Linked DNA regions of Homo sapiens. The protein of the gene in region 5 purifies or fractionates together with the protein of the main gene of each other region. This does not show direct contact. Each region holds a gene or a part of one and is shown on either strand. Other genes may lie near its edges. The genes, in order: PKN3, TRIM11, PLCD3, DENND11, EFNB3, RAD51C and TUBB3.

The links.
Region 1: the proteins of EFNB3 (region 5) and PKN3 purify together in Homo sapiens (affinity purification with mass spectrometry; 2 studies listed by BioGRID and IntAct, with this or other methods). This does not show direct contact.
Region 2: the proteins of EFNB3 (region 5) and TRIM11 purify together in Homo sapiens (affinity purification with mass spectrometry; 2 studies listed by BioGRID and IntAct, with this or other methods). This does not show direct contact.
Region 3: the proteins of EFNB3 (region 5) and PLCD3 purify together in Homo sapiens (affinity purification with mass spectrometry; 2 studies listed by BioGRID and IntAct, with this or other methods). This does not show direct contact.
Region 4: the proteins of EFNB3 (region 5) and DENND11 purify together in Homo sapiens (co-immunoprecipitation; 3 studies listed by BioGRID and IntAct, with this or other methods). This does not show direct contact.
Region 6: the proteins of EFNB3 (region 5) and RAD51C purify together in Homo sapiens (affinity purification with mass spectrometry; 2 studies listed by BioGRID and IntAct, with this or other methods). This does not show direct contact.
Region 7: the proteins of EFNB3 (region 5) and TUBB3 purify together in Homo sapiens (affinity purification with mass spectrometry; 2 studies listed by BioGRID and IntAct, with this or other methods). This does not show direct contact.

Annotation. Positions count from the first base shown.
Region 1 is NC_000009.12:128,716,003-128,719,502, reverse strand, and holds part of PKN3 (serine/threonine-protein kinase N3), read right to left. Parts: intron 2,757-3,500; coding exon 2,580-2,756; intron 1,179-2,579; coding exon 1,116-1,178; intron 955-1,115; coding exon 878-954; intron 1-877.
Region 2 is NC_000001.11:228,400,336-228,403,835, forward strand, and holds part of TRIM11 (E3 ubiquitin-protein ligase TRIM11), read right to left. Parts: intron 1,827-3,500; coding exon 1,731-1,826; intron 860-1,730; coding exon 629-859; intron 1-628.
Region 3 is NC_000017.11:45,115,516-45,119,015, forward strand, and holds part of PLCD3 (1-phosphatidylinositol 4,5-bisphosphate phosphodiesterase delta-3), read right to left. Parts: coding exon 3,300-3,500; intron 2,978-3,299; coding exon 2,776-2,977; intron 2,624-2,775; coding exon 2,479-2,623; intron 1,270-2,478; coding exon 1,117-1,269; intron 72-1,116; coding exon of another isoform or gene 42-71; exon of another isoform or gene 1-41. UniProt on the Homo sapiens protein: Hydrolyzes the phosphatidylinositol 4,5-bisphosphate (PIP2) to generate 2 second messenger molecules diacylglycerol (DAG) and inositol 1,4,5-trisphosphate (IP3).
Region 4 is NC_000007.14:141,695,667-141,699,166, forward strand, and holds part of DENND11 (DENN domain-containing protein 11), read right to left. Parts: intron 1-3,500.
Region 5 is NC_000017.11:7,708,202-7,711,872, forward strand, and holds the end of EFNB3 (ephrin-B3 precursor), read left to right. Parts: coding exon 1-49; intron 50-233; coding exon 234-326; intron 327-433; coding exon 434-538; intron 539-965; coding exon 966-1,375; 3' UTR 1,376-3,171; downstream 3,172-3,671. UniProt on the Homo sapiens protein: Cell surface transmembrane ligand for Eph receptors, a family of receptor tyrosine kinases which are crucial for migration, repulsion and adhesion during neuronal, vascular and epithelial development.
Region 6 is NC_000017.11:58,706,102-58,709,601, forward strand, and holds part of RAD51C (DNA repair protein RAD51 homolog 3), read left to right. Parts: intron 1-3,500. UniProt on the Homo sapiens protein: Essential for the homologous recombination (HR) pathway of DNA repair. Involved in the homologous recombination repair (HRR) pathway of double-stranded DNA breaks arising during DNA replication or induced by DNA-damaging agents.
Region 7 is NC_000016.10:89,933,342-89,936,597, reverse strand, and holds the end of TUBB3 (tubulin beta-3 chain), read right to left. Parts: intron 3,131-3,256; coding exon 3,020-3,130; intron 1,870-3,019; coding exon 794-1,869; 3' UTR 501-793; downstream 1-500. UniProt on the Homo sapiens protein: Tubulin is the major constituent of microtubules, protein filaments consisting of alpha- and beta-tubulin heterodimers. Microtubules grow by the addition of GTP-tubulin dimers to the microtubule end, where a stabilizing cap forms.

The DNA.
Region 1 (3,500 bases), on a different chromosome or scaffold from region 5:
AGAAGGCAGAACTCGGCTGGGTGCGGTGGCTCACACCTGTAATCCCAGCACTTTGGGAGGCCGAGGTGGGCAGATCATGAGGTCAGGAGTTCGAGACCAGCCTGGCCAACATGGTGAAACCCCGTCTCTACTAAAAATACAAAAAATAAGCTGGGTGTGGTGGCATGTGCCTGTAATCGCAGGTACTCGGGAGGCTGAGGCAGGAGAATCTCTTGAACCTTGGAGGCAGAGGTTGCAGTGAGCCGAGATTGCGCCATTGCACTCCAGCCTGGGCAACAGGGCAAGACTCCATCTCAAAAAAAAAAGAAGCCGGGCGCAGTGGCTCACGCCTGTAATCCCAGCACTTTGGGCGGCCAAGGTGGGTGGATCATGAGGTCAGGAGATCGAGACCATCCTCGCTAACACAGTGAAACCCCGTCTCTACTAAAAAAATACAAAAATTAGCCAGGTGTGGTGGTGCTCGCTTGTAGTCCCAGCTACTTGGGCTGCTGAGGCAAGAGAATCGCTTGAACCCAGTAGGTGGAGGCTGCAGTGAGCCGAGACTGCACCACTGCATTGCATCCTGGGCGGCACAGCAAGACTCCGTCTCAAAAAAAAAAACAAACCAAAAAAAAAACAGAAGGCAGAACTCAGTCTCCTCTCCCATCCCTGACCACAGGCTCTCCCTTGGGCCAGGTGCAGGCTGGGGCTACGAGCCTCTAGGACTAGGAAGAAAGGGCCAGTGTGCCCAGCTGTCCCCTGGAATGAGGTCTGGGGTGGTGGAACCAGGGCATCCGCAGGTGAGGAGATTTCCTGGGACATGCCATGTGCCCATCATCCTATTGGCCAGGGTGGGTAAACAAGGCTGGAGATATGGATCCCAATGGGCGGCCCCCACCTTCCTTGCAGAGTCCAAAGTCTGCGATCTTCAGGAATCCCTGGGCATCCAGCAGAAGGTTATCCAACTTCAGGTCCCTGAGGGCAAGGGTGCAGATCAAAGGGACTGAGTGGGGCTTAGACCCAGGGAACAGTAACGGCCCCTGGAGCAGCCCAGGCAGGCGGAGGCAGCATCTGTCCTTACCCACTCCACCCCCACCCCCACCCCTACCCCCGTGCATCCCTGGGACAAAAGTCACCTGTAAATGATCTTCTTCTCGTGTAAGAACTGCAGCCCCAGGACAACACAAGCCACGTAGAAGCTGCAGGGGTGGTTATGGGAGAACTCAGGCCCAAGACACACACCAGGGAGGCAGGGCAGGGAGGCACCAGGATGGCCATAGCGGGGGGATCCCGGATGTCCCGGCCAGAGTCAGAGATGAGTGAGACTGGGACAAGCATCATGCTGAGGGTGGGGGTGCTCCAATAGTCCCAAGGTCGCCCCAAGGTTGCGTGCATTTCCAGCTCACCCTTCATGGGCCCTTAAATGGTGCCAGGGACCAAGTGTTGGTCCCTGCAGTGGATATTCATCATGCCTATTTTTTTTTTTTTTGAGACGGAGTCTCACTCTGTCACCCAGGCTGCAGTGCAGCGGTGCGATCTCGGCTCACTGCAACCTCCACCTCCTGGGTTCAAGCAATTCTCCTGCCTCAGCCTCCCAAGTAGCTGAGACTACAGGCACGCGCCACCACGCCCAGCTAATTTTTTTTTTTTTTTTTTTTTTTTAGTTTTTATAGAGATAGGGTTTCACCATGTTGGCCAGGATGGTCTTGATCTCTTGACCTCATGATCCACACGCCTCAGCCTCCCAAAGTGTGGGGATTACAGGCATGAACCAACGTGCCCGGCCTTTTTTTTTTTTTTTTTAGATGGAGTCTCACTCTGTCGCCAGACCGAAGTGGCGGGATCTCGGCTCACTCCAACCTCCGCCTCCTGGGTTCAAGCGATTCTCCTGCCTTAGCCTCTCAAGTAGCTAGGATTACAGGCGTGTGCCACCATGCCTAGCTAATTTTTGTATTTTTAGTAGAGACAAGATTTTACCATGTTGGCCAGGTCACGAACTCCTGACCTCAGGTGATCCACCCGCCTCAGCCTCCAAAGTGCTGGGATTACAGGTGCCCGGCCAATCATGCCTATTTTTCAAATAAAGATCTGAGACTCACCAGGTGTGGTGGCTCACGCCTGTAATCTCAGCACTTTGGAAGGCCGAGGTGGGCGGATCACTTGAGGTCAGGAGTTAGAGACCAACCTGACCAACATGGAGAAACCTCGTCTCTACTAAAAATACAAAATTAGACAGGAGTGGTGGTGCATGCCTGTAATCCCAGCTACTCAGGAGGCTGAGGCAGGAGAATGGCTTGAACCAGGGAGGCGGAGGTTGTGGTGAGCCGAGATCATGCCATTGCACTCCAGCCTGGGCAATAAGAGCCAGACTCTGTCTCACAAAAAAAAAAAAAAAAAAAAAAAAAAGAAACCTAATGCACAGCTTCATAAGCTGATACCCAGGATCACAAATGCTGTCAGTTGGTGCCAGGATGTAAACCAAGGCCTCTGACTCCTGCTCCCCTGCTGTTGGGCACTTGGAGAAAGCAGTATGTAGAGAGTGGGTGTAGGGAACCAGGCAAAGTTTGCTGGAAGAGGCAGGCAGGAGGGATGGAACCCACCGGGCCTGGGGCTCGGGGAAGACATCCTCGTGGATCTGCATCATGAGGTCACCACCAGGCACAAACTCAGTCACAAAGCAGGCATGGCTGGAGGTCTGGAAGCAGGCAAGGAGGGAGAGCAGGAAAGGGTGCCCTGTGCAGCCCACAGCCTCCAGGATCCGCTTCTCGCAGTACAGGCTACAGGAGAGAGCAAGAGTATTAGAGGGAAGGAAAACTTTCCCTGGGCTGTGCCCTGTGCCCTGCACAACACCCCTGGCTCACTGGGCCCTCAGCCAAAGTGCCAGGCAAGTAGACTGATGGTTTCTTTTCATTTTTTTTTTTTTTTTGAGACACAGTCTTGCTCTGTCGCCTGGGCTGGAGTGCTGTGGTGTGATCTCAGCTCATTGCAACCTCTGCCTCCCGGGTTCAAGAGATTTTTGTGCCTCAGCCTCCCGAGTAGCTGGGATTATAGGAGTGCGCCACCACGCCCAGCTAATTTTTGTATTTTTAGTAGACGCAGGGTTTCGCTGTGTTGCCCAGGCTGGTCTCGAACTCTTGGCCTCAAGTTATCCACCTGCTTCGGCCTTCCAGAATGCTGGGATTACAAGTGTGAGCCAGTGCGCCCAGCCTTTTTTTTTTTTTTTTTTGAGACAGGGTCTCACTTTCTTGCCCAGGCTGGAGTGATGTGGTGCGATCTCGGCTCACTGCAGCCTCCGCCACTGAGGTTCAAGTGATCCTCCCACCACAGCTTCACGAGTAGCTGGGTGTGCACCACCACGCCCAGCTAATTTTTGTATTTTTTGTAGAGGCGGGTTTCACCATGTTGTCCAGGCTGGCCTCGAACTCCTGGGCTCAAGCAATCCTCCCACCTTGGCCTCCTGAAGTGCTGGGATTACAGGCATGAGCCACTGTGCCCAGCCTCCCCCTCCTTTTTTTTTTTTT
Region 2 (3,500 bases), on a different chromosome or scaffold from region 5:
GAGAGAGCTGACTCCAGGCCCCCTGACCTGCCGCCAGGCCACAGGCCAGGGCGTCCACTGGTTCTGGTTTGGGGGTGCACCAAGGAAAGCCCAGGCCCAGGGGGCCGGCTCAGGGAGTGGAGCCCACACATGGGAAAAGACTCTCCTGGAAGCAGAGGAGGAGGAGACTGCCCCCCATAATGGAGATGCATGGGGTGTGCCAGCGGGGTGAAGACAGAGTGAAGGGCGAGGACTTCCTGCTGGGGACACCATGGCAGGAATCCTATGGGAGGCCCAAGGTGGTCCCAGCGAGCACATGCCCACTCTGCTGTGCCCACAGGGAGCAGCAGTGTCAGTCAGGACGAGATGGAGTGACCTTATGTAATCACTTAAGAAACATCAACTGTTTACATCTACAGAGGAAAATTGATTTTCCCTTTCTCGGCACGTGGGTTTTGGGGGTGGGACATCTGTCCTGCTGCTGACTCAGCATTTCACAGGCAACAGCCAGGCACATCCAGCCATGCCATTCACCTCTCAGCCCAGACAACCTCTCTGCCCCTGCTTCTTGCACTTTCTGGTTCTCCCTCCCCCAGTGTGGCCAGGCCATGCCCGTGTGGCCACCATGGCTGCTCCCCGCCCAGCTCACCTGCAGCAGCCCCAGAGCAGGCAGCTGGCAGCGGCCCTCGAGCTCGGCGATGAGCTCAGCTAGGTGGGCGCTCTGCTGGCCTAGGTGGGCTGCGCCCTCCCGCAGCCGGGGCAGCACCTCCAGCTCCTCCTCCTCCAGCCTCTGCAGCAGCTGCTGCTCCTCCTCTGCCAGCAAACGGCGAAGACGCTCGAACTCACCCAGCACGTTCTGCCGCTGGCTCTCCACCATCTTCTGTGGAGCCCAGGGAGAAGGACAGCTGAGGCCAGACCCCAGGCCCAGCCAGACCCCAAGTTTGGTCAGACCCCAAGCCCACCCAGAGGCCTGGCTGCACCCAACCCCACCCCCGGGGCCTGCTAAAGCCAAAGCACAGCACCAGGTGTGGCAGGACCCCAAACCCACCACCTGGTGCTGGCCAGACCCCAAACCCACCTGTGGCACCTCCCAAACCCCAAATCCACCACTCAGGGAGAGCCAAATCCCATTCTACCACACAGGACTGGCTAGACCCCAAATCTAAACCCAGGGCCGACTAGATCCCAAATCCACTATCTAGTCCCTCCCCAACTTCCAAATCCACCCATTGGCTTGGTAGAACCCTGCATCTACCACCTGGGGCCAGCTGGACTACAAATCTACCACCCAGGGTCCCTCCTGACCTCCAAATTCTCCCCTGGGGCTTCCCAGATCCCAAATCCACCACCCAGAGCCTCCCAGACCCCAAATCTACCCCAGAACTGGACAGATCCCAAATCTACTCCTCAGGATGGCTGAATCCCACATCTATGACCTAGTCCCTCAAAACCTCCAAATTTACCTCCAGGGCCCAGACCCTAAATACACCTGAGAGTTGCCACCCAAGCATGCTGGGACCCCAGGATGGGGCCCTTGCAGTATGGGAGCCCACGCCCACGACCTGGCAGGACAGGTGCACGTGGGAAAGGACCAGCCCTTCAGTGGGCTCGGTGGGGCCAGGCTGAAGCAGTGACTGGTCCTGGGGCGCCAAGGGCAAGTGTGCCTGGCCAGCATCGCCCCCTGGGGTCTCCTATACAGGACCTTCACCCCCTACCCTGCCACCCAGGACCCTGGGAGCCCCAGCACCTGCCTGCCACAAGACGCAGGTCTCATCCGCCTGGGCTTGGAACAGCAACGCATCCTGCATCTGCTTCCGGAGATGCTCCAGTGACTTCTCCAGCTTCGCCTGCGGGAGAGGCCAGGCAGGACCATGAGACATGAGTCCTGTCACAGAAGCCTGCCCTTTTGCACCTGACACCCTGTCCCCTCCTCAAAGACAATGGGGACAAACTGAAATCTGCCTGGTGAATCAGGGAACTCAATGCCCTCCAATAAGCGTGAGCCCTCATGGTAGGTGGGCAGCCTCTTGCCAGAGGCTGACAGCCCCAGCCACATTCTTTCCTTTTTCTCATATGGGGCATTTCTAGTCCTCGACCTTGCTACCCTAGCCCAGGCCTCACCCCCCTTTGCAAAGCTACCTCAAGGGTTCTGGCTGCCCACCCCATCTGTCCCCAAGCTGGCTCTGAAGGTGCTGAGCTCTCCTGTTCCCAAGCCAGTGTCTACTCCTCCTCCTCTTCCTTCTCACCTGCTGGCTCACATAAGGGCCTTGGACCAAGCCTATGCTGGGGTCCAAAAATTCTGCCCTATGCCCCCACAAATTCATAGGTTGAAATCCCAACACCCAGTGTGATGATGTTAGGAGGCGGGGGCTTTGGGAGGTGACTAGGTCAGGAGGGCAGTGCCGCCACAATGGGATTAGTGTTATAAAGGAACCCTCGCCCCTTTCACCATATGACAACACAGTGAGAGGGTGTTGTCTGTGAACCAGGAAGCACCCTCACCAGACACCAAACCTGCCAGGGCTTGATCTTAGACTTCCAGCCTCCAGAGCTGTGAGTCTCCAGCTTGTATACATCTGCCATGTGCAAACCATGGTGTTTTGGTAGGACAGTCAGCACGGACAGACATGCCTGGCTACCCACCCTATCTTTTCTCCAAGCCACTCGGGACCTTGTGCATTTTCAGCTTCATCAGCTATCACTGTAATAAGCTCCAGGATGGGTACACCTCCATTCTGCTTTCTTGGTCCTTAATTCTCATTCCCACGGTTCCTCATGCTGTGCATACCAGGAAGCAGTGAAAATCCTGTACACAAGCTCACTGTACTGTGTGTGCTTGGGGTGCCCTGAACCCACTTCTCGAAGGGTCTGCTCACTTCCACCCCATCTGACACCCTTATCAGCAACGGGCCCTGTGCTGGCCACACCTCTTTGCTTCTCAGCCACCCCAAGTCTTGGCTCTCATCTCTCGCTATCCACGCTCTGGAAGGATGGAGGTGCTGGGAGGGTCCAGAAGTCTGCCCCGGTAGCAGAGCCAGGACTTCAGCCCAGCTGCCTGGCTCCAGGTGCTCACTTTAGTTCACCACTTGGCCTCACGATTCGGGAAGACCGCTGGAGCACCAAGGACATGTCCAACTGCTTTACTGTCTCTGCCTAGGCTCAGCTCTCACGTGAGCTACAAGAACCCCAAATGGCGGTCCCTGTCCCCAGGCCTCTCTCCTCACTGCTGCCGACCTGTTCCAGAAAACTCAGGCCTGGCCCCTGTGACCCCAACCCCACCTCAAACACTTGGCCCAGTGCCTCTCACTTCTCCCTCAATGCCTCAGTCCCTACGGGACATTTTCAGTTTTCTTTTTTTGAGACGGAGTCTCGCTTTGTCCCCCAAGCTGGAGTGCAGTGGCACGATCTCGGCTCACTGCAACCTCTGCCTCCTGTGTTCAAGTGATTCTTCTGCCTCAGCCCCCTGAGTAGCTGGGATTACAGGTGCCCATCACCACACCCAGCTAATTTTTGTATTTTTT
Region 3 (3,500 bases), about 37 Mb from region 5:
AGGGTTAGGCCTTCTCGCCCCTGTGGCAGCCAGTCAGTCAGTTATTCAACCACCGCCTTGTGAGGGGCTGGCTAGGGGTGGGAGGCAGGAAAGGAGACACAGAGATGAGCGATGTTTCTAATAGGAAAGAGTGGAGAATGGCCCGGGAGGCCATCAGGAAGGGATGCTTAATAAGGTCCCTCAACATCAGAATATACACAGCAGCCACTACAATGCACGCGACAGCTCAGGACTGAAAGGAAAGGGACCCTCTTCAAAGAAGATCTTACGTGGAAGAAGTGAGGCTACAACCTGGAATCACATGTCCTTTTTTGGTACCATTTAAAAGAGAAGACAGTACACATATGTACACAGGTAATGTGTGTGGGGAAATTCTTGAAGGACATGCAAGAAAGTTAGAGATGGTTACTTCTTGTGAAAGAGGACAGGTCAGTGGAGGGAGGGGAGCACTGCTCATCGCGTCCCTTAGTACAGCTCAGTTTTCTTTTACCATACGGGTGTGATTTTCACAGTAATAACAAAAATCACATCTCACACACACACGAGGGTGAGTCAACCCTGCCTGCATGTTGGGGATTGGAAGTAGGAGGAGAGTTTTCTCAAGGAGCCCGACAGGATAAATGTCTGGAGAGAGCCGAGGACGCGCTCTGGTGTCTGGGGGAGAGCAGGAGGCCGCCTCAGGCCCGAGAGTTGGGGAAGTGGATAAGGCCACAGGAAGAGGCGGCTGAAGTTGAGCTGAATTCTAAGCAGGTGACGCTTGGCAAGTGTGGATGGCCGAGAAGGGACTTCCAGGTGGAGAAAGTGTCAAGCGGGGCCTTGCAGGTGGGAATGGCAGAGCCTGCAGGACTCTACGGGCAGGGACACAGGGCCAGCAGGGCAAAGCCAGGTTACAGAAGAGGGTGTGTGTGTGGGGGGGTCTAGTCAAGAATGGAGAGCCAGAGGGCAGCAGAAGGACAAGACCAGGGGATGGCAGACCTCAGATGAACAGAGGAACAGAGAAAAGTTAAGGCAGCAAGAGGTGAGGGGTCCTGAGCCACAGAGGTGGCACGAGCAGTGCGGGGAGGCGGACTCCCACCAGACCTCCCTCCACCCAGGCTAGGGGCTGGGGGGCGTCACCTCTGGGGATGGCAGCTCCTCGGGATTTGGGGAGTCCAGCGCCTGTGTCACCAGCATGTCCCCCAGGATGGTGCAGAGGTGGCGGGCCATGGCAGCCTGCTGCTCCAGCCCGCAGTGGTTCTCCAGGGATAGGATGACAGGGTAAGGGGACAGCTGTGGGGGGAAGGGCAGCAGCTCAGAGCCACTCCCCTCCCTCTGCCAGTATCTCCCAACATCTGGCTCCCAGACCCTTCAGGACAGGCAGGCAAAGGCAGGGCTCTGGAGAACCCAGGGAAGCAGCAGACTGTCCAGGAGGCTGAGGGCGGCTGCAGGAATTATTTTTTTTTTCTTTGAGATGGAGTGTTGCTCTGTCGCCCATGCTGGAGTATAGTGGTGCAATCTCAGCTCACTACAATTCCATCTCCCGGGTTCAAGCGATTCTCCCTGCCTCAGCCTCCTAAGTAGCTGGGATTACAGGCGCCCGCCACCACACCCGGCTAATTTTTGTATTTTTAATAGAGATGAGGTTTCACCATGTTGGCCAGGCTGGTCTCAAACTCCTGACCTCAGGTGATCTGCCCACCTCAGCCTCCCAAAGTGCTGGGATTACAGGTGAGAGCCACCACGCCTGGCCGATTTTTTGTTGTTGTTGTCTATGCTTTGGTCTCTCTCCATCACCCAGGCTGAAGTGCAGTGGCACAGTCAGTCTCCCTGTGTTCTCCAGTCCTGGGCTCAAGTGATCCCCCCACCTCAGCCTCCTGAGTAACTCAGCCTACAGGCACATGCCCCCACACTCAGCTAATTTTTATTTTTGTTGAGACAGGATGTAGCTATTTGCTCAGGCTGGTCTGGAATTCCTGGCCTCAAGTGATCCTCGCGTCAGCCTCCCAGAGTGCTGGGAATACGGGTGTGAGCCACCGCACCTGGTCCCATAAATGCTTTTTACATGTGAATGACATTGACTATGTCAGTGATGTGAAAACTCTCCTCCCATCATTTGCTGATGGGAAGATTTGCACACTGTGACCAAAGTTGCAGTGTTTATGCAGATGCCACTGGTGAGCTTCTCTTACAGCTTATTTATTCTTTGGAAGTCATGATTAAAATGTCCTTCCCTCCCCCAAAGGTTTTCTTCTGGAAACTCTGTGATTTTTAGGACATTTCCCAAATATGAGAGAGGGAACATATTTCCCAAATATGAGGGTGGCATCTCATTCAGCTTTATGCCACCCCATTGGCCACTTATCCCAGCAGCACTTGGTGAATGAATGATTCTCTGGGCAAGGGTTTCCTCTGGAAGGACGGAGGGCAGCTGGCATGTGAGTGCGGACGGAGGTCATTGGGAAGGCTGTGGGGCTGGGGCTGGGCATCCCAGGGGCTCACCGTGAAGGCATGGTCGCGCACGGCTTGGACCACGTCCCGGAAGAGAATCTTGGAGGTGAGGGTATGGCCATGATAGATGACGGGCTCCCCTCCTGGCCCCTCCCAGCAGTCCAGCTCCACGCAGCGGCATCCCTGGGCAAAGGCCCTGTGTGTGGACAGATGGGTGGACGGGCAAGGTGTTGCCAGAGTGCCACAGAGCAGGGCAGCAGGCAGGCTGGGCCAGGAAGGCCCCAGGAAGCCAGCCCATGTCTCTCCCCAGGTGGGGCTCCCGGAAACATTCACCCCCTGCTACAGTACCTAACATAGGCCTCGGTGCTGCTGGGCCCCCCGATCTGGGAGTCAGTCAGATAGGTGTTGTGGGAGGAAGAGATGAAGTAGTGGGCAAGGGGCTGGTTCATGTCCTGGAACACACACGTGTGGGTGTTGTCCAAGGCAGCCCCCTCCGGCGACAACAGGTACATCATGAAGCCATCCAGTGTCATCAGCTCATGCTGCTTGGCTGCAGGGGTGGCAGGAGAGGGCATCAGGCCACATAGGGATCCCCCATGTCCAGCTTCCAATGCCCCCAAGGCCCACTCAGCTTAGGAATAATGACTAGACAATCTACTGACTAGACTCCATGTAAGTCATGCCACTTAACCTTCGACCAGACCCTGGGAGGAAGACAAACTGTTGTGCCATTTTACACATGTGGAAGCTGAGTCTGGAGGAGGTGAGGTAACCTGCCCGAGATGATGCCCGCGCCAGCCCGCAGCAGAACCCGCTTAGCTGGGAACACAGCCCTTTCAGGTGCCACGACCTGGCCGTGCCACCCCCCCCACCTGTCTCGTTGAGCTCATAGGTCTGAATGAGCTGCTGGGCGCGGGCCAGTGTGGCGCCCTCCTCGCCCTGGTCCTCCAGGAACTCCAGCAGCTCAGGGGCACTCAGCACGCGGTCCTCGCCCGAGTACTGATGGAAGATCTCCTCCAGCTCCGGCCGCTTCAGCAGCCGCCGCAGGAACTCCTCGATCTCAGCCCCCTCTA
Region 4 (3,500 bases), on a different chromosome or scaffold from region 5:
GCCAGGGAGCTGGGGCCTGGAAGATTCAACAAAAGAGGTCATCTCATGGCTAGTCCATCAAAGAGAGGAGGTGCCAGTGACAAGTGCCTTTTTCTCCCCTAACTTGCTCTCTTTCCATCTCTGTGTCCTTTCTCATCTTGGACCATGACTTGGACCTATTACAGGTACTTACAGGCACTTCCTAGCCTCTACTGCAAAGACAACTTCTGAGGAGGGATTCACATGACCACGGGAGGCACAAATGTGGCAATATGCATTGTGTACATTCAGCTGGTCATTGAACAAATATTGGTGGAGCACAACTTGGCAGCACGGTGCCTGCCAGGTGCTGAGCTCATGCAAAGGCAAATATGTCTCTGTTTAAAGGAACTTGGACTAACCGACTACGAGGCTGGCAGCTCAGTTACCCAGGCAAAGCCAGAAGGTCAGTGTCGCGCCTGGCTGAGGATGTACAGATGGTCTGAACCCTGCCACTTCACAGCTCCAAAGGTCAGCCTGACAGCTCTGTGCACCAGGGCCTCCCAGAGCTGGGGTTTTATAAGCCCATGGGCTAGGCCAGAGGTAGGCTGTCCTATCTAGGTTGACCACTGCCTCTGTCTTCCAAAACTAGTTCTGTTTAAATGAGAAATGACCAAACCCCCAGCTGTCTTAAAATTCATCACTATTTCCTAGGGAGATTGGACATTAACTGCAGTAACTGCTGTCTGCTAGAAAGTTCACCTCAAAATATTTAAAATAGAGAAAGCAATGATCTTGAACCAAAACAATCTCTTTTTAATAGGAAATATGTGAATTTCTTCTTCCTCCTCTGTTAGATGGTTCCCAAGCAAGCACTTCCTCCTGAGCTCTTCATTTCCTATCCAGAGACTGCCTCAGCTGGAGATCCTCTTCCAGCTCCTCTGACCTCAGGAGTGGAACTCCCACCCCAGCACGTGCCTGAGGTTTTACTCTTTCCACGGTTCTCTTCCCATCTGTGTATACATATGCCCTGATTGTAATCAGGAAGTCAAAACAAATCCTGTTTCAGGAATAAAGGCATGAATCAAAGAGTATTCTAGGTCCCAACAATACATTCCCTTCACATAACCACCTAAAGGGGCCATCAGATCCCACAGGTGGAAACCTCCAAAGAGTATTTGGTTCAGACCCTAACATCAGAAAAGTAAATAACCCAGGTGAGTTGACTTTGGGTCTTACATGGTTTGAAACAGTCTTAAAACCACCTAGTCTGAGAGCACATCCAAAGCAAAGAGAAAAGCATCAGGATAAAGAATCCTGAGTCAGGAAGAAGCTAATCCTGCTGATTTAAAGTCAGCTATATGCCAATCCATGGCTGAATTCCAATGCATTCACTTTACAAAGAAAGACCTTCCATTTCACAGATCCCATATCATTCTCCACTGGGTGGTAGTGTGGTGTGGATAAGGGGTGCAGGTAGACTTGGGCTCTGGCCCTAACTTTAGACAACTTAATGGCTCTGTGCACCTGTTTTTCTCATGATGATGGTGTAGTCTGTTGGGAGGATCAGAGGCAGGTCACTGAAACATGTGGCACAGTCCTTGGCACACAGCAGGCACTCAGGAGGTGGTGGGTATTACAATTACCATTTTTATTTTCCCCTCCTCAATTTTCAAGAGAAGAAACTGACTTCACAGCAGATGGCTACAAACTGATTTCTCCCTGAAAACCACAAGCAGGTGAATCACCAACAGCCTGGGAAAGATTCTACCCGGGTGGGATTAAGCAAATGAACCACAATTGTATTCCACTGGCATTAGGTGGAAATACAGGGGAAGGATGGCGACATGACAGAGTTTCTCTTCCTGCGAGACGTTCTGGCCGGATATCAGAACAGGCTTTTTCTTTGCCTGCATTTGAGCTGTCCATGCTTACGACTGCTCTTTGCATCTTAAAATTGTCCTCCAAATTTTCCATTCACATTCTACTTTGTCACTTTCCCACCCATTGCTAGAGCCATTTATTATTTGCCACGAGTCAGATGACCTGGGCAGCGCTCCAAGTGGTGCCTCAGACACCAGACCTAGCCCTATTCTCACTGGGCCTCCATCATCTCCATTGTTTAAAAAAAAAATGCTTATGTTTCATAGACTATACAGGGAATCTACAGAGATTAAAATTAGTGTGTGTGATTTTAAATGTACTCATGTGACATAAACATAGAAGCGCTCGGATACATTAAATTAAATAGGTGTTTAGATGTAATCTGGGCACTGGCTAGAGGCTGAGGAACAGGTAGAAATTCATTCCCAAGAAGAAAGGGAGAAACATCTTGAAAACCTCAGCAGGTGATCTGCCTCTCACCTTACCCCTCCTCTTGCAAGCTGCCCCAGTACAAACACAGGGAGCACAGGAATTTCTCCCAGACACCCACAATAAAACTCTAAACGCAGCAGTGTAAAGTGAATCTCTTATAAAGAAACAGTCTAATGAGGCAGATGCAAAGATGTCCAGACATTGTATGTTCAAAGCTTCATCGGCCTCCATCCTGCCCACACACAAGTCCTCAGCCACACGGTGATACCGCTCTTGCCACCATCTGGGGGCAGGGGTGCTCCCCAAGTGTGACAATATCCTCTCCTTTAATTAAGCAGACTAAGAACATTTTACTAGAAGCCCAAATAATGAAGTAAAATTAAAATCAAGGCTCTAAATCATGGGGTTGAACAAAATGAAACAGCAATATTCTGGCTTCCAACATCTTCCACCCAGCTTGCAGAGTTAGCATCTGGGTCTGGTTTCAATAGCAGCTTTGTGGCCCAGATGATCAGCACCACCATCCTAGGGCCCCCTGCTCCAGATGAGGACTGAGTGTATGTGTAAGCCTCACTTTGAACCTGAAGCCCCTAGTTCTTAAGTCACCTGTAGACTCAGCAACCATAATTTTCAATCCATGAGTCTGATGGAAATAAGCTTTAAGACTCTTTCTCTGATTCTTCCCACAGATGGCCAGCCTAGCTTTCCAAAACTTGTATCTAAAAGTGCAAAAGGATTACTCTTATTTCCACACCTTAGAGAATCACTGCATATATTCCTGCTCAAACACACACACACACACCCTTTCTAACAAGGATCCACCCCTCCTTTTCCCTCTTACTCTACTACCTAATGAATGTACAGCTATGAATTCTCTTCTTCCTCTTTCACTCTCCCTCTCTCTCAGGCACACACACTGATTTGGACACATGCCAACAGTTACCCACATTACATGGGAAGATGCACATAATGCCATGGCCTGGGCAGTAAGTGATGGGGGTGGCGGAGGGTTGAGGTGGGTGTGGGGTGGGGGGAGGAAGGATCTCCTAGGAGTGGAAACTGAGGACACAGGTGGGAGAGACATGGGGAAGTGGCTAAGCAGGCAGGCCAGCGAGAGAAACTAAACAGCAGACAAATCACACCTATGTAAGAACTTCTAAAATATGCTCTAATTTTGGTAAAGAAGTCAATATTCACTTTATCGCTTTTGGCAACACAGGCGAAGG
Region 5 (3,671 bases):
AATCTCTGGGGCCACGAGTTCCGCTCGCACCACGATTACTACATCATTGGTACTGCTGGGCAGAGGGCACGATTGAGTGGGGGGCTCCTGATACTGAGCAGAGAGGGAGGGGGACCCCTGCAGCCAAGAGGGAGATCCCAGTGCCCTCAGGCAGTGTTCACACCAGGGTGTGGGGCCAGAATCAGGGCTAGATTCTGGAGTGCCAACCTCTTCCTCTGGCTTTTCTCTCCCAGCCACATCGGATGGGACCCGGGAGGGCCTGGAGAGCCTGCAGGGAGGTGTGTGCCTAACCAGAGGCATGAAGGTGCTTCTCCGAGTGGGACAAAGTGAGTGGGGCTGGGGGACACCTCCTGGGCACGAAGGGACGTTGGGGCAGTACGATCATGGTTGGGGCAGTTGTCTCAGCCCCTCTCTGGGTCTTCCTCATCTCCAGGTCCCCGAGGAGGGGCTGTCCCCCGAAAACCTGTGTCTGAAATGCCCATGGAAAGAGACCGAGGGGCAGCCCACAGCCTGGAGCCTGGGAAGGAGAACCTGCCAGGTAGGAACCAGGGGCTAGGCCCCTGCCTTCCCCAGCTTCCTCTGCTCTCAGACCCCAGCTGCCCTGCCGTCACCCTCCCTCCCTCTTCAGTTTTGGGGGCGGTGATACAGGAAAGAGGAGAAGAGAGGATGGGAGGGTGGGAGGGGAATGGAAACCAAATGAGGAAAAGACTCAATTAGAACTAATTAGCCAAGTCAGTGCTTCAATCAGTGCTGTCAGAGAAGTGGGGAGGACTCCGTGGCAGGAAGCTGAAGGGCTGGACACCTGGATTCTGAGCAGAGTTCGGAGGGGGAGGAGAGATGGGGTCCCCAAGGGGCCTGGGCGCTACAAGGGAAGCCCATGGGGACCCCCAGGGTTGGGTGTCCAGGTGCCCAGGTGGCTCCTTCAGTCCCTCCCCCTCTTTCCTCCTTCACCCCTTCCCTGCCAGGTGACCCCACCAGCAATGCAACCTCCCGGGGTGCTGAAGGCCCCCTGCCCCCTCCCAGCATGCCTGCAGTGGCTGGGGCAGCAGGGGGGCTGGCGCTGCTCTTGCTGGGCGTGGCAGGGGCTGGGGGTGCCATGTGTTGGCGGAGACGGCGGGCCAAGCCTTCGGAGAGTCGCCACCCTGGTCCTGGCTCCTTCGGGAGGGGAGGGTCTCTGGGCCTGGGGGGTGGAGGTGGGATGGGACCTCGGGAGGCTGAGCCTGGGGAGCTAGGGATAGCTCTGCGGGGTGGCGGGGCTGCAGATCCCCCCTTCTGCCCCCACTATGAGAAGGTGAGTGGTGACTATGGGCATCCTGTGTATATCGTGCAGGATGGGCCCCCCCAGAGCCCTCCAAACATCTACTACAAGGTATGAGGGCTCCTCTCACGTGGCTATCCTGAATCCAGCCCTTCTTGGGGTGCTCCTCCAGTTTAATTCCTGGTTTGAGGGACACCTCTAACATCTCGGCCCCCTGTGCCCCCCCAGCCCCTTCACTCCTCCCGGCTGCTGTCCTCGTCTCCACTTTTAGGATTCCTTAGGATTCCCACTGCCCCACTTCCTGCCCTCCCGTTTGGCCATGGGTGCCCCCCTCTGTCTCAGTGTCCCTGGATCCTTTTTCCTTGGGGAGGGGCACAGGCTCAGCCTCCTCTCTGACCATGACCCAGGCATCCTTGTCCCCCTCACCCACCCAGAGCTAGGGGCGGGAACAGCCCACCTTTTGGTTGGCACCGCCTTCTTTCTGCCTCTCACTGGTTTTCTCTTCTCTATCTCTTATTCTTTCCCTCTCTTCCGTCTCTAGGTCTGTTCTTCTTCCCTAGCATCCTCCTCCCCACATCTCCTTTCACCCTCTTGGCTTCTTATCCTGTGCCTCTCCCATCTCCTGGGTGGGGGCATCAAAGCATTTCTCCCCTTAGCTTTCAGCCCCCCTTCTGACCTCTCATACCAACCACTCCCCTCAGTCTGCCAAAAATGGGGGCCTTATGGGGAAGGCTCTGACACTCCACCCCAGCTCAGGCCATGGGCAGCAGGGCTCCATTCTCTGGCCTGGCCCAGGCCTCTACATACTTACTCCAGCCATTTGGGGTGGTTGGGTCATGACAGCTACCATGAGAAGAAGTGTCCCGTTTTGTCCAGTGGCCAATAGCAAGATATGAACCGGTCGGGACATGTATGGACTTGGTCTGATGCTGAATGGGCCACTTGGGACCGGAAGTGACTTGCTCCAGACAAGAGGTGACCAGGCCCGGACAGAAATGGCCTGGGAAGTAGCAGAAGCAGTGCAGCAGGAACTGGAAGTGCCTTCATCCAGGACAGGAAGTAGCACTTCTGAAACAGGAAGTGGTCTGGCTGGAACTCCAAGTGGCTTAGTCTGGGGGATCAGGAGGTGGGAGGTGGATGGTTCTTATTCTGTGGAGAAGAAGGGCGGGAAGAACTTCCTTTCAGGAGGAAGCTGGAACTTACTGACTGTAAGAGGTTAGAGGTGGACCGAGAAGGACTTTTCCCAGTCTTCAGTGGCACTTCCCAAGATCTCCCTTCCCTTGTGCTCTGTGCTGATTTTAGGACAGCTAAGATGACTGCCATGTGCTGTGGCAGGCCTAATTTGTCTTGTTCTTTCCTTTCCATATCCCAGTATAATCTCTGTTAATCAACAGGACTACCCCAAGAACCCATGTGCTCTCCCGAGTAACCCAGATGGCTGTCTTGTTCATTCCATCCTACATTTCTGACTCCTTTCAGACTCAACACAGTTCCCTTCTTAGTGACCAAAATGGTGGCCTACTGGCTGGTCTAGCTGACAGTGGTACTTAGCAAAGGCCACTGTTTCCATAGTGACCAGCTGATACCTCTTCCTGCCCTCTAGTGTGCAATTGGGTGTTGCCTCAGTTTCCTCCCAGCTCAGTTTTATTAGATCAAAGCTGTTGTTGGGCACCAGGTTGGCCACCTCAATCACCAGCCAAGATGGTTGCTTTGTCCACCAGAGGTCAAGTTCACCTCTCTGGTGCTGTAGTTCCCAGCTCCTTCCTGATTTTTCTAATCGCTCCTTCTGGGGAACAGGAAGTTGATATTGCCATGGTGGCGGGGTATGCCGTCACCTCAGTAGTTTTACTGTAAAAGGGAAATTTGAACAACAAAAACCAAAAAAAATAAAAATAAAAAACTTCAAAAGTTGACAAGAAGGCTGGAGAATGACTGGACTTGAATTGGGACAAAGGCTTGGTTAGAATGGCTTTCAGCTGAGGGTTGGATTGCATGAAACCAACCAAGGGGGGTGGGTAGGGATAGGGCTAGTTTGGAGTGGTGAGGTTGGCAGTGCTTGGGGAGGCGAAAATGGGCTGGGCGAGAAGGCAGAGGAAGGTGTCACCTCTAGGGGAGGGAGAGAGTAATGCAGGCAGGAGTGGGGTCGCCAATTCATCCATGGGGACAGTCTGAGTGTCTTGCTAAGCCAAAGCACCAGAGACAGGGTAAGACGCAATTAGGATCAAAGTGGTAAAAACATGTTCACATGTTAAAGTCTATTCCCTACCATCCCTACCCAAGGCACTTGAGAAGTTTTGCTGTTGGGGACTCATGGGGAGAAGGGATGTGGCTGATCAGAAGGAAGTAGGAAGGACTCAGGGAGGGACCCAGGCATCAAGCTGCGTGTGCCCTGGCTCCCTGTATACCCATAACC
Region 6 (3,500 bases), about 51 Mb from region 5:
AGGCAAATTTCATTGGACCATAAGGCTCAAGAATAATCCTTTGCTGGCCAGGCACGGTGGCTCATGCCTGTAATCCCAGCACTTTGGGAGGCTGAGGCAGGCAGATCACGAAGTCAGGAGTTTGAGACCACCCTGGCCAATATGGTGAAACCCTGTCTCTACTAAAAATACAAAAATTAGCCGGGCATGGTGGTGCGTGCCTGTAGTCCCAGCTACTAGGGAGGCTGAGGCAGAAGAATCACTTCAACGCAGGAGGCAGAGGAGATTGCAGTGACATGAGATCATGCCACTGCACTCCAGCCTGAGTGACAGAGTGAGACTCCATCTCAAAAAAATAATAATAATTAAAAAAAGAATGATCCTTTGCTTTGATGCTCTGCCTTCCAGGCCCACTGCAGTAGCAGAATCACCCTACTGCTCTGTGGGGTGGCCCTGCCCCTTCCTCTCTCTGCAAGGGCCCCACCCTCTGAAACCAAGGACGACATAGCATTGCCCCCTGGGCTTATGGTAAGAGTGACAGCTCTGAGGATCTGTGATCCCCTTTGGCACCATTCTTTCCTTTTCTTGAGGAATAGGGCACATTCACAGTCAAGTAGCTCATGGTTTTCTCTTGTGGAATCAAGGAAGTCCAACAGCCTTCGTTCATTCTTTCCCACTTACTCTGTCCTCTTTACTTCAAACTAGCAGTGTTTCTGCTGTTATAATCCCTTATCTATCACTGGCTTCTGCTGAGATGGCTGATTAACATCATGGATAATCTATTTATAGAGTCATTGTTCAACCGTACCTTTGGTCTTCTCTCTAGAGCAAGCTTTCTTATTTTTAGCAATATGGATAGGCTGAGAATTTTCTACATCTCTAAGTTCTGGTTCCTTCTTGCTGAACAATTCCTTCTTCAATTCATCTGTCTCCTCTTTCATTTTTACTATAAGTGGTCTAGGAGAAACCAAGCCACTTCCTCTACACTTTGCTTAGAAATCTCCTGAGATAAATAGCCAATTTCATTTCTCACAAGTTTTACCTTCCATAAAATACTAGAACACAGCCAAGTTCTTTGCCACTTTATACTAAGCACCAGCTTTCCTTCAGTTTCCAGTAACTTGTTCCTCATTTCTGTATAAATCCTCACCAGAATAGCCGGGCATGGTGGCTCACACCTGTAATCCCAGCACTTTGGGAGGCTGAGGTGGGCGGATTGCCTGAGGTCAGGAGTTCAAGACCAGTCTGGCCAACATGGTGAAACCCCGTCTCTACTAAAAATACAAAAAAATTAGCTGGGTGTGGTGGCGTGTGCCTGTTAATCCCAGCTACTAGGGAGTCTGAGGCGGGAGAATTGCTTGAACCAGGGAGGTGGAGGTTGCAGTGAGCCAAGAACGCACCACTGCACTCCAGCCTGGGCAACAGAGCGAGACTCCATCTGAAAAAAAAAAAAAGCCTCACCAGAATTGCCCTTAATGTCCATATTTTCAGTATGTGCCTCAAAACTGTTCCAGCCTTTGCTTATTACCCAATTTGAAAATCACTTCCACATTTTAGGTATTTGTTATAGTAGTACCTTGCTTCTCTCACTACCTAACCCACCATACCTCATTTCTTGATACTAAAATTTGTTGTGGTCACCTCAGGCTGCCATAACAAAAATACTATAGTCTGAGTGGCTTGAACAACAGAAATTTTATTTTCTTACAGTTCTGGAGACTAGAAGCTCAAGATAAGGTTCTGGCTGATTGGTCTCTGGTGAGAGCTCTCTCCCTGGCATGTAGATGGCCACCTTCTTGCTGTGTCCTCATGGGGAGGAAGGAGGAAGAGTGAGCTCTTTGGTGTCTTTTCTTCAAGGACACTAATCCTCTCAAATCAGGATGTCATTCTCATGACCTAATTTTACGTTAATTACTACCTTAGAGGCCCTCTCTCCAAATACAGTCACACTGGGAGATAGGGCTTCAATTTACGAATATTGGGGGGACACAGCAGTGGTCATGTGTGGAGTCATGAAAAATCGAATCAACCTGTGCACATATTCCCAGCTGACGTTGAACAAGGTCATGTTCTGCCTTTTTATTTCAGCTCTCTACTGTAAACAAGTGTCCTTTTCACAGTCTTTATAATGCCACTTTTTTTTGCATTTTTGTGCTTTTTATTAGTGTTCACCTGTTCTTCATCACTTCAACCAGTTTCATTTTCTTATAATTATCGGAAATTACCTTATTTGTGTGTTTGTTTGCATATTAATGGTCCCTTACTCCACTAAAACATAACCTCCAAGAGAGCAGGGACCTTCTCTCTTATTTACTATATTCTTCTCTCTTATTTACTATATCATCCCCAATGCCTGGAACAGTAAATAGCATATAGGAAAGGAGGTGTCAATTAATACTTGCTAAATGAAGAAACAAATACTCTAAATAAAACAACTTACTTAGGCATTGCTTCATAAAAGCCTCTTGTTTAATCCAACCCTTACTAGATAGAAAAAAACATAGCATTGGAGTCTTTTGTTTGTTTACATTTGGGTTAGTTTCCAGATTCTTTTTGATTTGGGGATCTTAAGGTTTATATATTGGTTTATTTTTCTAACTTCACTGTTTATTTTTTGCTTTGGGGGGGGCTTTCTTTTGAAAGGGTTTTGCTCTGTCCCCCAGGCTGGAGTGCATGGCAGGGTTTCACCACGTTGGCCAGGCTGGTCTCAAACTCCTGACCTCGTGATCCACCTGCTTCGGCCTCCCAAAGTGCTGGGATTACAGATGTGAGCCACCGCGCCCAGCCTGAAGGTTTTTTTGTTTTTTGTTTTTTGTTTTAGGAAACATAAAAAGAACCCGGAAGGTAAAATTGGTATATTTAATTGACAAATGTGTTGTTTTACCAAGACTTTTTCTTTAAGCCTTTTCAGAATGTTTTACAAAGACTTTAAATGTGCTTTTTATCAGTAAAGACTGTGTACAGTGGCAAGTTAAAGAAAATTATAATTATTCCTTTTTCTTTTTGAATTACTTTTTTTTTTTTTTTTTTTTGAGACAAAGTCTCACTCTGTCGCCCAGGCTGGAGTACAGTGGCGCAACCTCTGCCACCAGGGTTCAAGAGATTCTCCTGCCTCAGCCTCCTGAGTACCTGGGATTACAGGTGCCTGCCACTGTGCCTGGCTAATTTTTGTAGTTTTAGCAGAGATGGGGTTTCACCATCTTGGCCAGGCTGGTCTTGAACTCCTGACCTCGTGATCCACCTGCCTCGGCCTCCCAAAGTGCTGGGATTACAGGTGTGAGCCACCGCGCCCAGCCTTTGAATTACTTTTTTAAAGTTGAGAAATTATCAAAGCAGAGTCCGTTTTAACTTTTAGTGATTATTGCAGAAAGCACTGGCTGAACAGCTTTGTAACTTTCCAAAAGAAAGCCATACTTTAGACAGTTGGAAATAAAGCCCTGGGTTTTAAGGTTTTTTCCTGTAATGGACTATGGTTTTTCCAATGCTATGTTTTTTTCTATCTAGTAAGGGTTGGATTAAAG
Region 7 (3,256 bases), on a different chromosome or scaffold from region 5:
GCATCTCCCTGACCTCAGCAGCCCCTCCCAGGGCCCAGCCCCGAGACACTAAACACACCGTCTTTTTCAGGGAGCACTCGGGGCCCCCTTCCCTACCTCCCTGGTTGTGACCCGAGGCTTCAGGTCTGATGGCAGTTTCCACCGCAGGAGGGACCACCTGCCCCAACTTTCAGCCTACAGACAGGTGGGAGAAAAGTCTGGGGTGCAAGCCGCTCTGTGGGAGGCCAGGGAACGAGTGTGGGGTTATTTCCAAGTCGGGAGGGCTGCATCTTGAGGTCTGGAATGAGGTACTTCCCGTTCCTTCTCCCGGGCTTCCCGTTTCCGGGGTCTCCCCACGGGCTGTGCCTTGAGACACATTCCGGCCCCCAGCGCAGGCCTCTCTCAGCCGCCAGCCTGGGAGAGGATGAGCTCTTCTTGCCTGTCCACCCGGGCCTCCCTGTCAGCCCCTCCACCTACTGGACACAACTTTCCAGAATAAAAGGACATCTCTGGCACCAAGCAAGGGTATCTGACAGCAATAGATTTATTAAGTATCCCCGAAAATATAAACACAAACCAGTAAAAAACAAAACCGTAAAACGTCAGGCCTGGAGCTGCAATAAGACAGAGACAGGAGCAGCTCACACGTGGCCTAGGTGGGGAGGACGAGGCCATAAATACTGCAGGAGGGCGGCAAGGGAGCCCTAGGGCGAGGGGAAAGCAGGGTGTCGGCAGCAAGATGGCTCCGGGGGTTTAGACACTGCTGGCTTCGGCCCCGGCCGCCACCTGCCTCTCACTCCAGCTGCGAGCAGCTTCACTTGGGGCCCTGGGCCTCCGACTCCTCCTCGTCGTCTTCGTACATCTCGCCCTCTTCCTCGGCCGTGGCGTCCTGGTACTGCTGGTACTCGGACACCAGGTCGTTCATGTTGCTCTCGGCCTCGGTGAACTCCATCTCGTCCATGCCCTCGCCCGTGTACCAGTGCAGGAAGGCCTTGCGCCGGAACATGGCCGTGAACTGCTCGGAGATGCGCTTGAACAGCTCCTGGATGGCCGTGCTGTTCCCGATGAAGGTGGAGGACATCTTGAGGCCGCGGGGCGGGATGTCACACACGGCCACCTTCACGTTGTTGGGGATCCACTCCACGAAGTAGCTGCTGTTCTTGCTCTGGATGGCCAGCATCTGCTCGTCCACCTCCTTCATGGACATGCGGCCCCGGAACACGGTGGCCACCGTCAGGTAGCGGCCGTGGCGCGGGTCGCAGGCGGCCATCATGTTCTTGGCATCGAACATCTGCTGGGTGAGCTCGGGCACGGTCAGGGCCCGGTACTGCTGGCTGCCCCGGGCTGTGAGGGGGGCGAAGCCGGGCATGAAGAAGTGCAGGCGCGGGAAGGGCACCATGTTGACGGCCAGCTTGCGCAGGTCAGCGTTGAGCTGGCCCGGGAAGCGCAAGGAGGTGGTGACTCCGCTCATGGTGGCCGATACCAGGTGGTTGAGGTCCCCGTAGGTGGGCGTGGCCAGCTTGAGGGTGCGGAAGCAGATGTCGTAGAGCGCCTCGTTGTCGATGCAGTAGGTCTCATCCGTGTTCTCCACCAGCTGGTGGATGGACAGCGTGGCGTTGTAGGGCTCCACCACCGTGTCTGACACCTTGGGTGAGGGCACGACGCTGAAGGTGTTCATGATGCGGTCGGGATACTCCTCACGCACCTTGCTGATGAGCAACGTGCCCATGCCGGAGCCCGTGCCGCCCCCCAGCGAGTGGGTCAGCTGGAAGCCCTGCAGGCAGTCGCAGTTTTCACACTCCTTCCGCACCACATCCAGGACCGAATCCACCAGCTCCGCCCCCTCCGTGTAGTGACCCTTGGCCCAGTTGTTGCCGGCCCCACTCTGACCTGTACAGGGAGAAGAGGGGTAAGAGACAGGGGCCAGGGACTCTGCAGTCCAGACCTCCAGCCCCTGCCTGAACATCCCAAGGGCAGCCGTGGCAGCCCCATGCCTGTTCTGTCTTCTGTAAAGTAGGCCCCACTGAGCACCCCTTCTCATACCCGCCGTGGCTTCCCTGAGCCGATGCTGCTGAGTGCTCAGGACGAGGGCTCTGGACAGAGTCTTGAGAACTTGGGGTCACAGCAGAGCGAGGCTCTGCCTCCTGAGGGGATCCTGGGTGAATGGATCAGCCCTCCTGCTCCAGCATACCTTCCTTCCGACTGGCAGTGCCAGGAGCCCAAACAGCCACCCCAGAATCCCTGGCAGCTGGGGGCTGGATGCGAGTTGGCATCTACCAGCTGGATGTGCTGCGGTCGGGAAGGCAGAAGTGAAGCGAGGCCCTCCTGTTTCTGTGGCGCGTCCACGGCCCCGCCCCAGGACACAGACATGGGAACGTGGCATCCACGGCCCCGCCCCAGGACACAGGCATGGGAACGTGGCATCCACGGCCCCGCCCCAGGACACAGGCATGGGAACGTGGCATCCACGGCCCCGCCCCAGGACACAGGCGTGGGAACGTGGCATCCACGGCCCCGCCCCAGGACACAGGCGTGGGAACGTGGCATCCACGGCCCCGCCCCAGGACACAGACGTGGGAACGTGGCATCCACGGCCCCGCCCCAGGACACAGACGTGGGAACGTGGCATCCACGGCCCCGCCCCAGGACACAGACATGGGAACGTGGCATCCACGGCCCAACCCCAGGACACAGGCATGGGAACGTCCTGATCTCTTGACCGCAGCAAGGCCTCGTGCTCCTGGACCCCGGAGTCCTCTGGAGGCCCCGTTCTGTCTCACCAGCTCTCTAGCAATTCTGTAAGCTTCTGTCTGCTTTACACTTCATTCCACTTGAAATGCATGAGTGGTTTCTGTTCTCCCCACAGAACCCTTTCTCTGGGCCTCCAATGCCCAGCTGTAAAATGGAGAGATGAGTTCCCACCATTCAGGATCATGTGAGGAGCTGACCATTCCTTGTTTCTCACAGCCGTCCCCGTCCACCGACCTGGGCTTGCCTGTGATGGGGTCTGCCATCAGAGCTTGGAGCAGGGGGAACTTACCAAAGATGAAATTGTCAGGCCTGAAGAGATGTCCAAAGGCCCCTGAGCGGACACTGTCCATGGTTCCGGGTTCCAGGTCCACCAGAATGGCTCGAGGCACGTACTTGTGAGCTGAGGGGAGAGAGGGGCTCGGTGATTCGGGTCACAGAGGGCCAGAGCCTCTCCCTCATTCTTTCTGAATTCTGTGCCCGCCTGCCATCCTCCTGCTCACATCCTAAGAGCCTGTACTCTGAAGTC